Linked DNA regions of Homo sapiens. The protein of the gene in region 1 purifies or fractionates together with the protein of each later gene. This does not show direct contact. Each region holds a gene or a part of one and is shown on either strand. Other genes may lie near its edges. The genes, in order: OR7A5, KIAA1549, SLC25A42 and GADL1.

Region 1 (3,292 bases):
ATAGAATTGTCAGGCCAAGCGAGGTGACTCATGCCTATAATTCCAGCACTTTGGGAGGCCCAGCTGGGAGGATCACATGAAGCCAAGAGTTTGAGACCAGCCTGGGCAACAAAACAAGACCCTGTCTCTACAAAGCATGAACAAAATTAGCTAGGTATGGTGACACATGCCTTTCGTCCCAGTCATTCAAGAAGCTGAGGCATGAGTATTATATAAGCCCAGAAATTTGAGGCTGCAGTGAGCTATGATTGCACCACTGCACTCCATCTTTAGCAAGAGAGTAAGACCCTATCTCAACAATGAATAAATAGAATACAACAGAATAGAATAGAATAGTCATGACGTGTGCAAAATTTAATATGTAATATGGTCTGGGCAGGCATTTTCATGTTGGACAAAGACCAGAAACAAGCTCATTGGATTTGTCAAAAAAGTGATCAAAATTCAAAGTCCACAAGTAGCAAAAAAAAAATAAAATAGGCCAGGCGCGGTGGCTCACGCCTGTAATCCCAGCACTTTGGGAGGCCGAGGCAGGCGGATCACGAGGTCAGGAGATCGAGACCATCCTGGCTAACATGGTGAAACCCCATCTCTACTAAAAATACAAAAATTAGCCGGGCACAGTGGCGGGCACCTGTAATGCCAGCTACTCAGGAGGCTGAGGCAGGAGAATGGCGTGAACCCGGGAGGCTGAGCTTGCAGTGAGCCAATATTGCACCATTGCACTCCAACCTGGGCGACAGAGCGAGACTCTGTCTCAAAAAAATAATAATAAAATAATAAAATAAAATAAAGGCCACACAGGAAATACAAGAAAAGTGAGAAAGGGACTGCTTCATCCACTCTCAATTCATATAAAAACCAATTGATCAAGTAAATATGGAATAGGCACAGAAAAAAATGAGTCTTTTACTGTTTCATATAAAAATGCCCAAATCTTGTCATTGTTTGTATGTTTCTTTTTGTGAATTGTTGGCTTATTCTCTTTGCTCCATTTTTCTATTAGGATATGCGATCTGTACCTTTGTTGCCAAAAAAGGTATCATTAGTTTTTGTCATGGGTAGCAGCTATCTGGGGCCGGCATCATGTAGGCAGTAAGAATTTACCAAGACAGTTGTAGATAAAGAAAGGCAAATTTAATTAGAGAAAGGATAATAATACATTGCAAGGGTGCAATGGGCAGGTTAGCAAGAAAGGAGCTGACTGCAAGGAGGCAAAGGCTTGCTGGGGATTTTATAGGATAGTGCTTGTGCTGCGAGCTGAAGAGGGCTTTGTGCGGTACTGATAATGCCAAGGTTGCAGTGAGCTAACTTGCATTTTTCCATCAGCTGAGGGTCAGGTGATAAGACGGGTGCAGGAAGATTGTGAGTCATTGGCACACGAGGGTTGTGTGTCCTGGACCATGAAGAAAGGCAGACTTAGAGCTTATCTATCTTCTCTTTTTGTTTTTCCCTGCTTCAGCCAGCCTGACTCCATTTCCCTAATTAGGACTCCACAGTCTTGTCTTTTGGATAACTTTATTTACTTATTTCTAGTTCCAAAAGGAAAGCTAAAACTTTAATAATCATTAAAACCGACATAATTAAATACTATTGTTAAATTAAAAACCATGAAGTCAATAAAGATGTCAGAATTCTTTATTTTTGATCTTTTATTTATTTTGCCAGGCATCGAGGAGATACAATGGAAGCTGAAATGTAACCATAACCAGGGTCGCTTTTATTTTCCATCCTATAAGATCCCCAGCAAGCCTTTGTCTCCTTGGAGTCAGTTCCTTTCTTGCTAACCTACCCGTTGCACCCTTGCAATGTATTTTTGTCCTTTTGCTGAGGGATTACCTGAGTTTATTAGACTTTTTCCTTACTGGGGTCTGTTTAATTTCTCTCACTCTGTTTATTGAACAGCTCTTTTATGTTTCTTTAAACACAGGGCTGAAAACAGTCATACCAAAATGGAAGTCCAAGTTTACATGTGTATACAGACTTGTGAACTGGAATTTCTTGTACCAATTCTACATTCTGTAGGGAAAAAAGAATCTGATATTAAAAGCTTTCCTTGAGCCAAATGCAGTAGCTCATGCCTGTAATTCCAGCACTTTGGGAGGCCAAAGTGGAAGGTTCACTTGAGGCCAGGAGTTCAAGACCAGCCTGGGCAACATAGGCAGACCTGGTCTCCACAAAAAATGTAGAAATCAGCCAAGGGTGGCGGCACATGGCTGTGGTCCCAACTACTTGGGAGGCTGAGGCAGGAGGATGGCTTGAGCCTGGGTGGTTGAAGCTGCAGTGAGCTATGATCACACCACTGCACTCCTGCCTGGGCCCTCTTCGGCCAGTGTGCTGCATGTGTATATGTGTGTGTGAGTGAGTGTGTGGCTGCATGTCTTTGGAGTGACAGCAGGTTTCAGAGCAAGAGGGACCTGGCCTCAATATATTTTATTATAAAGGAGACCAATGAAACAGAGGCCAGAACCCAAGACACCAGAAGGAAATAAAGAGGGGATGCATTTCAATTGATGTGACACCTTTCTAGTCCAGTTAATAAAGTGCAGGTGCAACAGCATCTAGACAGATGGACACTTTGTCCCTTGATGTTTTGACAGCCAGGTCCCCTTATTCTGCAACATCCTCTGACACCATGTCCCATCACTCTCCGTCTTACTGATTCCCTGGCCACACTGGCTTCTGTGTTGGACTTGAACATCTGAAAGAAGCACGTCCCAACCAGGTGCAGTGGCTCATGCCTATAATCCCAGCACTTTGGGAGGCCGAGGTGAGCGGATCACCTGAGGTTGGGAGTTCAAGACCAGCCTGACCAACATGGAGAAACCCCGTCTCTACTAAAAATACAAAATTAGCTGGGCGTGGTGGTGCATGCCTGTAATCCCAGCTACTCGGGAGGCTGAGGCAGGAGAATCGCTTGAACCTGGGAGGTGGAGGTTGCAGTGATCTGAGATTGCGCCACTGCGCTCCAGCCCGGCAACAGAGCGAGACTCTGTCTCAAAAAAGAAAACAAGAAAGAAGCACATCCCTCAAAGTTTTTGTACTGCCATTCCTCCTGCCAGGCACCCACTTCAACAGATAACTTCATGAATCTTGCCCTGTCTTCCTTGAGATCTTTTTTCAAACATCACCTTGTTTGCAGGTCTTGAATAATAATCAGCAAACAAACAAACAAAAAACAAAAGAAACACTTCATACCCTCCCTCCTTTTTACCTGCTTTGTTTATTTTCCAAGCGCCTGTTCCCATCTGACATATTATGTGATTGTTTAATTTGTTTATATTCGATTGTT
Region 2 (3,570 bases), on another chromosome or scaffold:
TTGCACACTATTTACACAGACTCAGTCCCAAAAGCAGGTGTCTCTCAAGGTCTCTGGAGATTTACATAGCTCCAGAGTTAGTCCAGGCTGACTTAGCCTTCAATGTTCCAACAATACCTATTCCCAGAAGGCTAGAACAGAAGGCACTTTACCTCTTAGCCCAGTGCTTCCCAAACCTCAATTGTGCATGCAAAATCACCAGGGGGATCTTGTCAAATGCAGATTCTGATTCAGAAGGTCGGGGGTGGGCCCTGAGATTCTGCATTTTCTAACAAGCTACGAGGCAGTGGAGGCAGTGATGATGCGAGCTAAGAGGCAGTGATGATGCTCAGAGTGTGGGGACCACAAGATTAGAATTTCACTAATGAGAAGTAATTGCCTGAAGCTAACAAAGGAGATGGAAAAAAGAAAGAGACAAAGAGAAAGAATAAGAGAAAGCAAAGTATGGGTCTTGAGTGTGTGGATGCAAGAGGGAAGAATAAAGGGAGTTTTTAAAAAGAAGAGCCATCTGCAATGGTGAGAGTGAGCTGCCTTCAGCAGGTCATGGGCCTAGAACATCTACCAGGCAAGGAGAAATGACAAAACAACCTAACAGAAAAAGGACAGATGCTGCTTATAAGTGCATTCCAAGACATCCAAGATGTTGACTTGATATGTAGGAGCTACAGGGAGAAATGAGCTACAAGGAGCTAGAGGGTTAATGAGATTAGCGCTAATCTCATTAACCCTTTCTTACACCGAGGAGGAAACCCAGGACAAGGTAACTTGTCCATAGTCACAAAGTTACAGGCAGATTTGCATTTGCACACACCCAGGTTTTTTAACTCACCTTTTAACAAATCCTGCTGCCTAACAACAAGAAAAAGAAATCACATCATTGTGAGCTCCAGATGAAAGGTGGGTGGTCACAACTTGAAAACAAATTAGATCAGTTAGAACAGTGTCTTCCTATCTGGGAAAATCAACCTAGTGTAATTATAATGACGGTAATTAGCTGCCTCTATCATTCAGGGCACTGATAGAAAACCTGTGGCTCCCACGTCCCTAGTGACTTGTAACAACTCCCTGGCTGGGTTCTGTTTTCAGAATTAAGTGAGGCACTTCCTGACAAGCACTGCAGCAGCTGTTCCCAAACGGGCAGGAGTGAGCATTGAAAATGCAGTCCTCTGCACCCTTTCACTCCCAACCCAAACAAAACCAAGCAAAAACATGTAACAAAAAATGCTTATTTTATTTTACCTTATCTTATTTTATCTTATTTTATTTTGAGATGGAGTCTTGCTCTGTCACCCAGGCTGGAGTGCAGTGGCGCGATCTCATTTCATTGCAACCTCTGCCTCCCGGGTTCAAGCAATTCTCCTGCCTCACCCTCCCAAGTAGCTGGGATTACAGGCACCTGCCACCACACCCGGCTAATTTCTGTATTTTTAGTAGAGACCGGGTTTCACCATGTTGGCCAGGCTGGTCTCCAACTCCTGACCTCAGGTGATCCCAAAGTGTTGGGATTACAGGCGTGAGTCACCGCGCCCGGCCTCAACATAACGATTTTAAATTAGCTGTTCTAACAGTGAAAAGACAACTGCAAGATACCAATGGTATACAGTAGTCCCCCTCCTCCAAGGTTTCGGATACCGGAGGACAACTGCAGTTTGAAGATATTTTGAGATATTCTGAGGTATTTTGAGATACAGCATATTCACGTTTTATTACAGTAGACTGTTAGAACTGTTCTGTTTTGTTATTATTGTTAATCTCTTACTGTGCCTCATTTTTTAATTAAACTTTATTGCAGGTATGTACATATAGGAAAAAACCATGGTATATACAGACTTCAGTACTACCCAAAGTTTCAGGCATCCACTGGGGGTCTTGGACCACATCCCTTGCAGATAAGGAGGGACTACTATATCTTCAAAATACTGTTAATTTTCAGTTACTGGGTTTACCATATCCGGATCAGTGGTTCCAATGCTCAGGGGCTAAAACGGAGCTGTCAACTTGTTAAAATGAAGATTCCCAGGCACTGCCACCAAAGAGTCTAATTTAGAGGCTAAGGGTGAGTCGTAGACATCTAAATTCTTAACAAGCACCCCCACATCCCCAAATGATGTTGATGCAGGAGGCCTAGGGGCCACACTTTTGAAACATTTAAGTATTTGTTTATAATATCCTAAACGACTCACAAAGCATAAATATTCACCTAGAAATGGCCAATAATAAAACAGCACATTAAGAAAAAAATTTCACACACCATAAGCATAAATGCAATAAAAAAATTATTAAAAGAACAAATGGCAGATCTTGCTAATCAAAACAACCAAAAACTTCTACATTTCAAAATTATGTAAAATTTAAAAGAAATTCCTTTGGAAGGGGAAAACGCAACATATAGAAGGAAAAATGGTTGCTATCCTTCTAATACATAAAGATTTAAATACATATCTATGCCACAACAGGTAAATAAATAAAAATACAGAGAAAATTCACAGAATACAAATACAAAATAAAAAATATTCAATTCTAAAGCAATAAAACCGTGCAGGTTAAAACAATGTATTACAAATTTATTTAACAAGGGCTTTTAAAGTAACATTCAATGCCAGTGATGAAGTGAATACTCAATGCAAGTGATAATGGAAGGCCCCTGCGTAAGCTTCAAGGGCTTATGTCAGCATTATAACTTTCAAAAATTGCTTCATTCAAAAATCACATACTGAGTACCTACTAGGGGCCCAGCATTTTGAACAAAAGATGCAGAAATCCAGCCTGGTGGGCCTTACATTTTAATCACACTCTAATACCCCTTCCACAAATGTATACTCAAGAAAACACACACACACACACACACACACACACACGGAAAGAAACATGCACAAAGCCTTTTTTTTTTGAGACGGAGTCTTGCTCTGTCGTCCAGGCTGGAGTACAATGGCGCCATCTCGGCTCACTGCAACCTCTGCCTCCCTGGTTCGAGCAATTCTCCTGCCTCAGCCTCCCAAGTAGCTGGGATTACAGGCACATGCCACCACACCCAGCTAATCTCTGTATTTTTAGTAGAGACGGGGTTTCACCATGTTGGCCAGGATGGTCTCAAACTCCTGACCTCAGGTGATCCGCCCACCTCGGCTTCCCAAAGTGCTGGGATTACAGGCGTGAGCCAGCGCGCATGGCCAGCAGAGCCTTCTCTATGTAGCTATTCATCAGCATTACTTACAGCAACCCAAAAAATGGAAATAAAAGAATAAATCATTAGGATAGAAAATAGTTTTCAAATAAGACTTAATGAATGGAAAAATGCTTAAGTTAAATGTAGAGTGGAAATGGTAGTAAATACAATTGTGCATATAATTCTTTTTTTAATGTTAACAACAAAAAAACGATAAAATTACTTAGTGTTACCTACAGGCTGTGAGATTATGGGTGACTGGTTTCTGTACCTTTCAGTAATTTCCAAATTCCCTACAAAGCAATCTATTTCATAATAACTATTACTTTTTAAAAACTTATCTCTGAATAAGGTGAAGAAACTGGGCATGATTCTTTGTTTTTATACTGTGGATGGCTAATCAC
Region 3 (3,570 bases), 4.3 Mb from region 1:
TTTCTAAAATAAATCTAAAAATAAAAGCCAATTTGAAGCGTGGTTTGGGGGCCATGAAGGAGGAGGTGACCGCCTGGCAGCTTCTCTAGCACCTGGGGATGGCCAACACTTACCTTGGAAGATGATTTTGGTTCGGTCCAGGGGAGCTACCGCTGTTTTGGCAAGGGCACCAGCCAGGGCCCCAGACAGCAGGGAGCTGAGCACTTGCCTGTGGTCACGCTGCAACAGAACATGTGATCAGAGGTCAGAGGGCAGGGGGGCGGCTCCGCAGAGGACCTTGCCCCAGAAGTGCCTTCCTTACACCCTCTGGGCCGGGGCCGAGGGATGTACCCCACCCTGAGTATGTTGGCCTTGCTTGGTTCTGGGTGATCTGTGGTGGGTCCACAGGCCACAGAGCCTACTGGGGACACAGTGAAAACCTCCCAAGATGACAGGTACCATCCACTTTGGAGGTGAGGTGTGCAGGTTTCACATTCTCAGAGACAGGCTCACAATAGGACTGGCCCACGTGCAAACTTCAGTTCCCTCCACAGCCTGTGTGCACCTGACTACGGCACTGTGGCATTGTAGGTACACAGGGACTGAAAACAGGCACCAGGGACCGTTGGGGTCAGGGGGTTGGCAGTGGGTATCAGGCAAGCAGACCCTGACTCTGTGTCAGCGTGTCCCTTCCCACAACTTCCGATCAGGACTCCAGAGGTAGGCATCTATGACTCTTCATCCAGCCCAGTTGAGGGGGTGACAGTGACACTGATGATGGCTGCCAACCTGCGTTGACTGCTCCCATGCCAGCCTGAGAGCCATCGCTTTCTGCAGTCCTCTGGAGCTGCCCAAGTCCCCTGCTCCCCCACAGCCCTCCCTCCTTCCCTGGAAGGTCACGCCGCACAGCAGTGTGTCCGAGCCCTGTGGGATCCCACAGGCACCACCTGCCCATCAGGTTGGAGTTTCCATTTCCCCTGCTGACTCGGCCACGGGACTCTCACTGAGAAGTGGCAGAGAGCATTCTGGAAAGTTCTGGATGGGAGGTGCTCTGATTCCATTTCCCCAGTGGACTCGGCCATGGGACTCATTGAGAAGCAGGGGAGAGCATTCTTCTGCCTCAGCCTGCAATGCTTTGCTGTCTGAATGTAACGTGGAAGGGCAGGTTGTTCAGTGACTCCCAGGAATCTGCGAAGTCCCACCAGGCAAGGGCATCCTGAAGGGCCTGGAGCCCCACAGTGCAGGGTGGGGGTGTGTACAAGACCCTTCCTGTCCCCGTGGTGCCACTGGTCCACACAGAGAGCCAGATGCCAACAGAAGCATCAGATGAAAGCAAATACAGCCACCCATTGGGAAGGTGCCGCGAGGAGGTGGCCCAGGGTTCTGTAAGAACTCTGGGTTGGTAGGTGAGAGGCTGAGCTTGAAGGATGAGGTGCAGGTCACTTTGGGGTGTGTGTCATAGTATTAGGTGGGGAGGAATGAATACTCAGAGGCTAGGGTGAAAAGGAGCAGGGGACCCTGGGGGACCACAAGGAGGGCAGATTTGCTGGCACAGGGAAAGGGAGGGGGCCCAGAGAAGAGAAAGGAGATGGCAAAGAGAGGTGGGTGCTAGATCCTACAAAGCCTGGCAAGGAGGCTGATCTTTGCCCAAATAAATGGGTTATTTTTATTTTTTTTCTGAGGCACAGTCTTGCTCTGTCGCCCAGGCTGGAACACAGTGGTGTGATCTCAGCTCACTGCAAACTTTGCCTCTCGGGTTCAAGCGATTCTCCTCCCTCAGCCTCCTGAGTAGCTGGAATTACAGGCAAGCACCACCACGCCTGGCTAATTTTTGTATTTTTAGTAGAAATGAGGTTTCGCCATGTTGGCCAGGCTGGTCTCGAATTCCTGGCCTCAAGTGATCTGCCTGCCTCGGCCTTCTGAAGTGCTGGGATTACAAGCATGAGACACCGCGCCCGGCCGAAATGGGCTATTTTTAATATGACCAGAGTGGGGCTGGGCACTGTGTCTCATGCCTATAATCTCAGCACTTTGGGAGGCCGAGGCGGGCAGATCACGTGAGGTCAGGAGTTCGAGACCAGCGTGCCCAACATGGTGAAACCCCATCTCTACTAAAAATACGAAAATTAGCCGGGCATGGTGGTGGGTGCCTGTAATCCTAGTTACTCAGAAAACTGAGGCAGAAGAATCGCTTGAACCCAGGATACCAAGGTTGCAGTGAGCCGTGATTGCACCACTATTCTCCAGACAGGGTGACAGAGTGTCTGAAAAAATAAAAAATAAAAATAAAAATGTGACCAGGGTAGAAGCGGCTCCTGCAGAAACCCAGGATAGATATGGTGGAGGCTGGAGATGGGGAAGGGATGTGGCGCACTACTCAGGTGTAACAGGCAACCGGAGTCAGACTGAGCATGGTTGCCCCCACCTCTGGAGTTTGCTCAGCTCAGTGTGTGGCTCGGGGTAAAGGGCTGGGCCTGAGTCTGTCCACACACTTGGCCTGAATCCCAGCTCTGCCCGACTGAGCTCAGGCAGAGGGTGCCCTCTTTGGTCTCCCAGTCCTATCTTTACAACAGCAAGGTGCCAGCTCTCAGACCCTCTCCCACATGTCCTGGGCTACCCAGCAGCCTTGCACCCCCAGTCTGGTTCCACAGAACACAGCCTCCTTTTCCTCAGTGCTCCCAGGGTCCCCTCCACCAGCCCAGCCCTCCCTTCCTCAAAGGGACAGATTGCACAGCGATTTTGTTTCTGAGGCCAAACTTCGCCATGGAGTTTGATCTTCTCCTAGCTTCTCGGAAGCTGTCTTTGGGGACCTCTGCCTTTTCTGGGACATGCAGCCAGGTTGCAGACGTCTGGTTCCATGAGCTTTGAGAATTGCGGGCGCTTGTTGGTGGTCCCAGCAGCAGTCCAAGGCCTTACCAGCTTCAGGCCAGTTTCTTCTCTGAATCAGTCGGACCAGCTGCTCCCCTCTGGAATGGGCCTCTGTGTGCAAATGGAATATTCCATGGAGAGTGCCTCCCTGCACCCTGCTGGAGACAGAGTTCTTCCACCTCCTCCATTCGGTGGTTACCTCCTATCAGTTTGTCGTTTTGTTTGTTTTTTGAGACAGTCTTGCTCTGTCCACCAGGCTGGAGTGCGGTGGCGCAATTTTGGCTCACTGCAACCTCTGCCTCCTGGGTTCAAGTGGTTGTTTGTCCTGCCTCAGCCTTCCCAGTACCTGGGATTACAGCTGCGCGCCACCCTGCCTGGCTAATTTTTGTATTTTTAGCAGAGATGGGGTTTCTCCACGTTGCCCAGGCTGGTCTCGAACCCCTGAGGCTCAGGTGATCCGCCTGTCTCGGCATCCCAAAGTGTTGGGATTACAGGCGAGAGCCAGCGGGCCCAGCCAAGGCTCTTAACGTTACAAAGCCAACTCTGTGTTGTTTTTCTGAGATAGGATCCCACTCTGCCACCAGGCTGGAGTGCAAGTGCATGATCATAGCTCACTGCAGCCATGACCTCTTGGGCTCAGGTGATCCTCCCACCTCAGCCTCCTCAGTAGCTGAGACCACAGATGTGTGCCACCACACCCAGCTAATTTTATTTTTTTGCAAA
Region 4 (3,570 bases), on another chromosome or scaffold:
TGCCCCCCAAAATTCTCACTTGCCCTTTACTTACATTCCACATCTGAGCTCAAAGTACTCGCTCCTGAGTGAAATCCCAAAAATCTGTTCCAGTCTCAAAGCATTTATCACATCCTTACTGGGACCCCCCGCTGCCTTTTCTAATGAAAACATATCCTTCCAATTAGATTATAAATTCTGTTCAGAGCTGGGCCTTTATATTGTTTTTCTTTATATTCTCTAGGGCTGAATATAAAGCTTTAGTCATAGCTAATACTCAGTTAATATTTAATGACTGAATAAAGGCCAATAAAAAAAACTGCCAGAGGAGCAGTGTACTCCAATGTAAAGCAGATCCAAAGTATTTCACAAGTACAGAGAAGAACAGAAATTATATAATTATAAATATGCTATCTGGGCAAATACCAAACACCATCAGGATTTTGCCTTGAACATAACTTCCAAATTCATGCATCAATCTATTTTCCTACTAGTTTTCCGAAAGGCATGTGATCAAAAATTCAGAATAAATATCACCTCACTTTCAAAATCTTTTAAAAATGATACTTATTTCTAACTAATATAACTGGAATAAAAATCTCTTCCTTACATCCATTTGTTGATAATCCACCTCCAACATGAAAACCAATGTGATAAAGGTTGATTCGGTAATTTTAAGAGGCATATGGAATAGTTAAGAGTGCAGATTGTGAAGTGATACTGCCTGGATTTTAGTCCCGGCTCTGATACTTGTGTATAATCTTGGGCAACATATTTGACCTCTTTGTGCCTGACTTTCTTTCCCAGCTCTAAAATGGGGGTAATAGTATCTGCCTTTTAGTGCTTTTGAAAGGATTAAATGCATAAGGAGTAGTCCTTAGAACATAGTAAGTATTCTTAAGAGTAGATGTCATTAGCGGCGGTTCTAATATCAATTTGAATTGAATTTGAGCCTGAATTTGAAATCTACAACCAATAATTGGTACCAGAAAGGAGTCAGACTTAACCACCTAAGATTTCTAGGCTAAATTTAGACAAGCTCTTCATAAGGACCTTAAGATAAATTTAAAATGTTTTTACATCCTTTTCCATCTTTTGCTTGATTTTCATGAACAACATGAAGAGTGTGCACTAGAAAATGGGGAGCAAAGAGCATTAGAGAGTTGCGTAAGTGAGATTAGCAGGTTACTTATCTATGTTATTATCTAGGGTGCAGGAAGTTTCATCCCTGTGCTTCATGTCCTTATGTGATTAAGCTCTAGGGTCTCAGCCAATCTTCCCACGAATGATGACTGGCAGAGTAAGGAGGCAACCCTTCAAGGACAGCAGGAATTGCCTGAAGGACAGCCTACACTTTTATATCTGGACATCCTTTTGAGACAAAGGCATAGAAGAAATAAAAACTTGGCCTTCCCATTTGCTTTCTATTCAGCCATACTGATTTGGGGAACATCTATCTTTCCCATTTCTGCAATTTCTTACAGGTTTTAATTTTTACCTTCTCATTGACATCTGTAGCTTTCAAAACCACCTCTTCCATTATTAGCCTACAGGCCTCTTCAACAAATTTTTCTCCAGCTTTTGCATCTGTTGTAGGACCATTCAGCACAACCCCATCCACAAGAACAGCATTCTTCTTACTTGGAATCATCTCTTGTTGATCAATATCTCCTGGAAGCAAGCAAACAAATTGTGTTTGAGAGATAATCTAATTACACCACATAACAAAGCACGGGACAAAATGCATCACTATCCCAGCTTCAGATGGCACATCTTTTAATACATGAAGGCATCATTTGAGGTGTTGAGCTGACAATTTCTTATGACACACCATGGTATGATAGTTAAGGAAAATTTTACAAAGAAAGCTCACAATTTATGGATTAAGTAAATCTACCTTATTATATATGTCACTCTGTACTGGGCTGAGTTAGTCATGGAGTATATGACCTCCTAATTCAGTGCAATTTCAGGTCTGATGGGGAAAGGTACCATTCACATACAATTCCCATGCTAGATGGTGTTTGAAGTTGAAAAAAAATGTTTTCCATAATTAGAATGCTGATTCACAAAGCAACTGCCCCTAGGAGAGAGTAAATATTCATTGGCATTTCTACACATGCACAAATGATTAAGTGATTTCCCTAATCCTTTCCTCAGAGACAGCCGTCACTCTACCACAGGAGAGTTCGAGATGGAGGAACAGGAGTTAGGCATTTGGAGAAAAGGATGAGGAGAAAGCCCTTCAGATTTTATCTAGAATTAACACCACCTCTATGCTGTCAGTATCCCCTTAAAATATAAATAATACAATATCATACAATAGTGGTTTTAACTTTCAGAATCTGGTGCATTGAGTAGACAAATCCTATAATTAAGGTAGCAAGCTTTTAGCTTCATTTCCTTGTACAAAGTCCTTTAGCATTTCTGAGCCCTAGGATGAAGCTTTGGGCAGAGATAAAGAAAATAGCACCTGTCCTTACACAATTTATTTTCCTCAAGGAAGAGATAATGCATTTCCAGATTGAAATAACAAATTGAATTTTATGAAGATCCATCTTGTATTGGATGTATCTGAATTATCGAAGTATCTAAGAGGGATCACCTGGTCACCTTCAACAAAGTGAATATTGAAATCTTCAAAGGCAAAGAGCTAGCTGCTTCCTTCTTGAACTAGCACACATGAATATGTTTCTCCAAATGTATGTCCCCTCTTCCTTTAGGTGCGTGTAGCTGTTGGCCAATTTCTCTATGAACTAGATTACAAAGTTTACACAAAAGTTGTATTTTTCATTCTTGCAGCATCTTGTTTAGCATCAGGGAGTGTGGAGGAGACCAAGAAATGTAAATGTAACCTATTTTACTCATTCTTGCAGTCACCTTTCAAACACATGTACAAAGAGATCTTCGTAAACATAAGCCCATGTCTGTTTCACACACACACACACACACACACACACTCTCTCTCACACTCACACACTCACTCTCTCTCTCTCTCGTAATTTGTCAGGGATACCATATTTTCCCTTTTAACAAATCATTCCTTAAAAAGCAGCAGCGATATAAACTTGTCACTAATCTTAATTGTATGTTTTAATTCTATGTTTAAATGTTCCTCTATATTACAGATACTGCTTTGTCCCTGAGAGCCCCTAATTTTTCAGCCATTTTCTACATAGAGAGTGATAGAGGAAAGAAAGCAGCACAATGATTTGTTAAGCCTGTATTAAATGCCTTTAAACTTTTCAACCTTGCAGCTTAAGCACAGGCAAAAGGATGAGACGGAACATGTTCAAGACTGTACATGCCGATCATTGACTAAATGTTAAAAGTCAACATGAAAATCTATATCTGAGAAGAAAGGTTACTGCCTACCCAAAATAGCCCTCCACAAAAATAATTCTGGCAACTCAATCCAGATATTCAACCAATTTCCAGCACAAGCTTTGATTCAATCACATTCTCTTTTTCTAATCAGTATGTTTCTCCACCTTATAATGTATATGTTCATTTAATTGTTGAAATTGACAGAAACAATTTTTAAAGTACTTTTCAGCACTGTACCTCACACAGTATCTTCTATTTTAAATC

What was found.
Region 2: the proteins of OR7A5 (region 1) and KIAA1549 purify together in Homo sapiens (affinity purification with mass spectrometry; one large-scale study listed by BioGRID and IntAct). This does not show direct contact.
Region 3: the proteins of OR7A5 (region 1) and SLC25A42 purify together in Homo sapiens (affinity purification with mass spectrometry; one large-scale study listed by BioGRID and IntAct). This does not show direct contact.
Region 4: the proteins of OR7A5 (region 1) and GADL1 purify together in Homo sapiens (affinity purification with mass spectrometry; one large-scale study listed by BioGRID and IntAct). This does not show direct contact.

Annotation. Positions count from the first base shown.
Region 1 is NC_000019.10:14,828,930-14,832,221, reverse strand, and holds part of OR7A5 (olfactory receptor 7A5), read left to right. Parts: intron 1-3,292.
Region 2 is NC_000007.14:138,974,828-138,978,397, forward strand, and holds part of KIAA1549 (UPF0606 protein KIAA1549), read right to left. Parts: intron 1-3,570. UniProt on the Homo sapiens protein: May play a role in photoreceptor function.
Region 3 is NC_000019.10:19,098,430-19,101,999, reverse strand, and holds part of SLC25A42 (mitochondrial coenzyme A transporter SLC25A42), read right to left. Parts: intron 220-3,570; coding exon 114-219; intron 1-113. UniProt on the Homo sapiens protein: Mitochondrial carrier mediating the transport of coenzyme A (CoA) in mitochondria in exchange for intramitochondrial (deoxy)adenine nucleotides and adenosine 3',5'-diphosphate.
Region 4 is NC_000003.12:30,860,116-30,863,685, forward strand, and holds part of GADL1 (acidic amino acid decarboxylase GADL1), read right to left. Parts: intron 1,651-3,570; coding exon 1,478-1,650; intron 1-1,477. UniProt on the Homo sapiens protein: May catalyze the decarboxylation of L-aspartate, 3-sulfino-L-alanine (cysteine sulfinic acid), and L-cysteate to beta-alanine, hypotaurine and taurine, respectively. Does not exhibit any decarboxylation activity toward glutamate.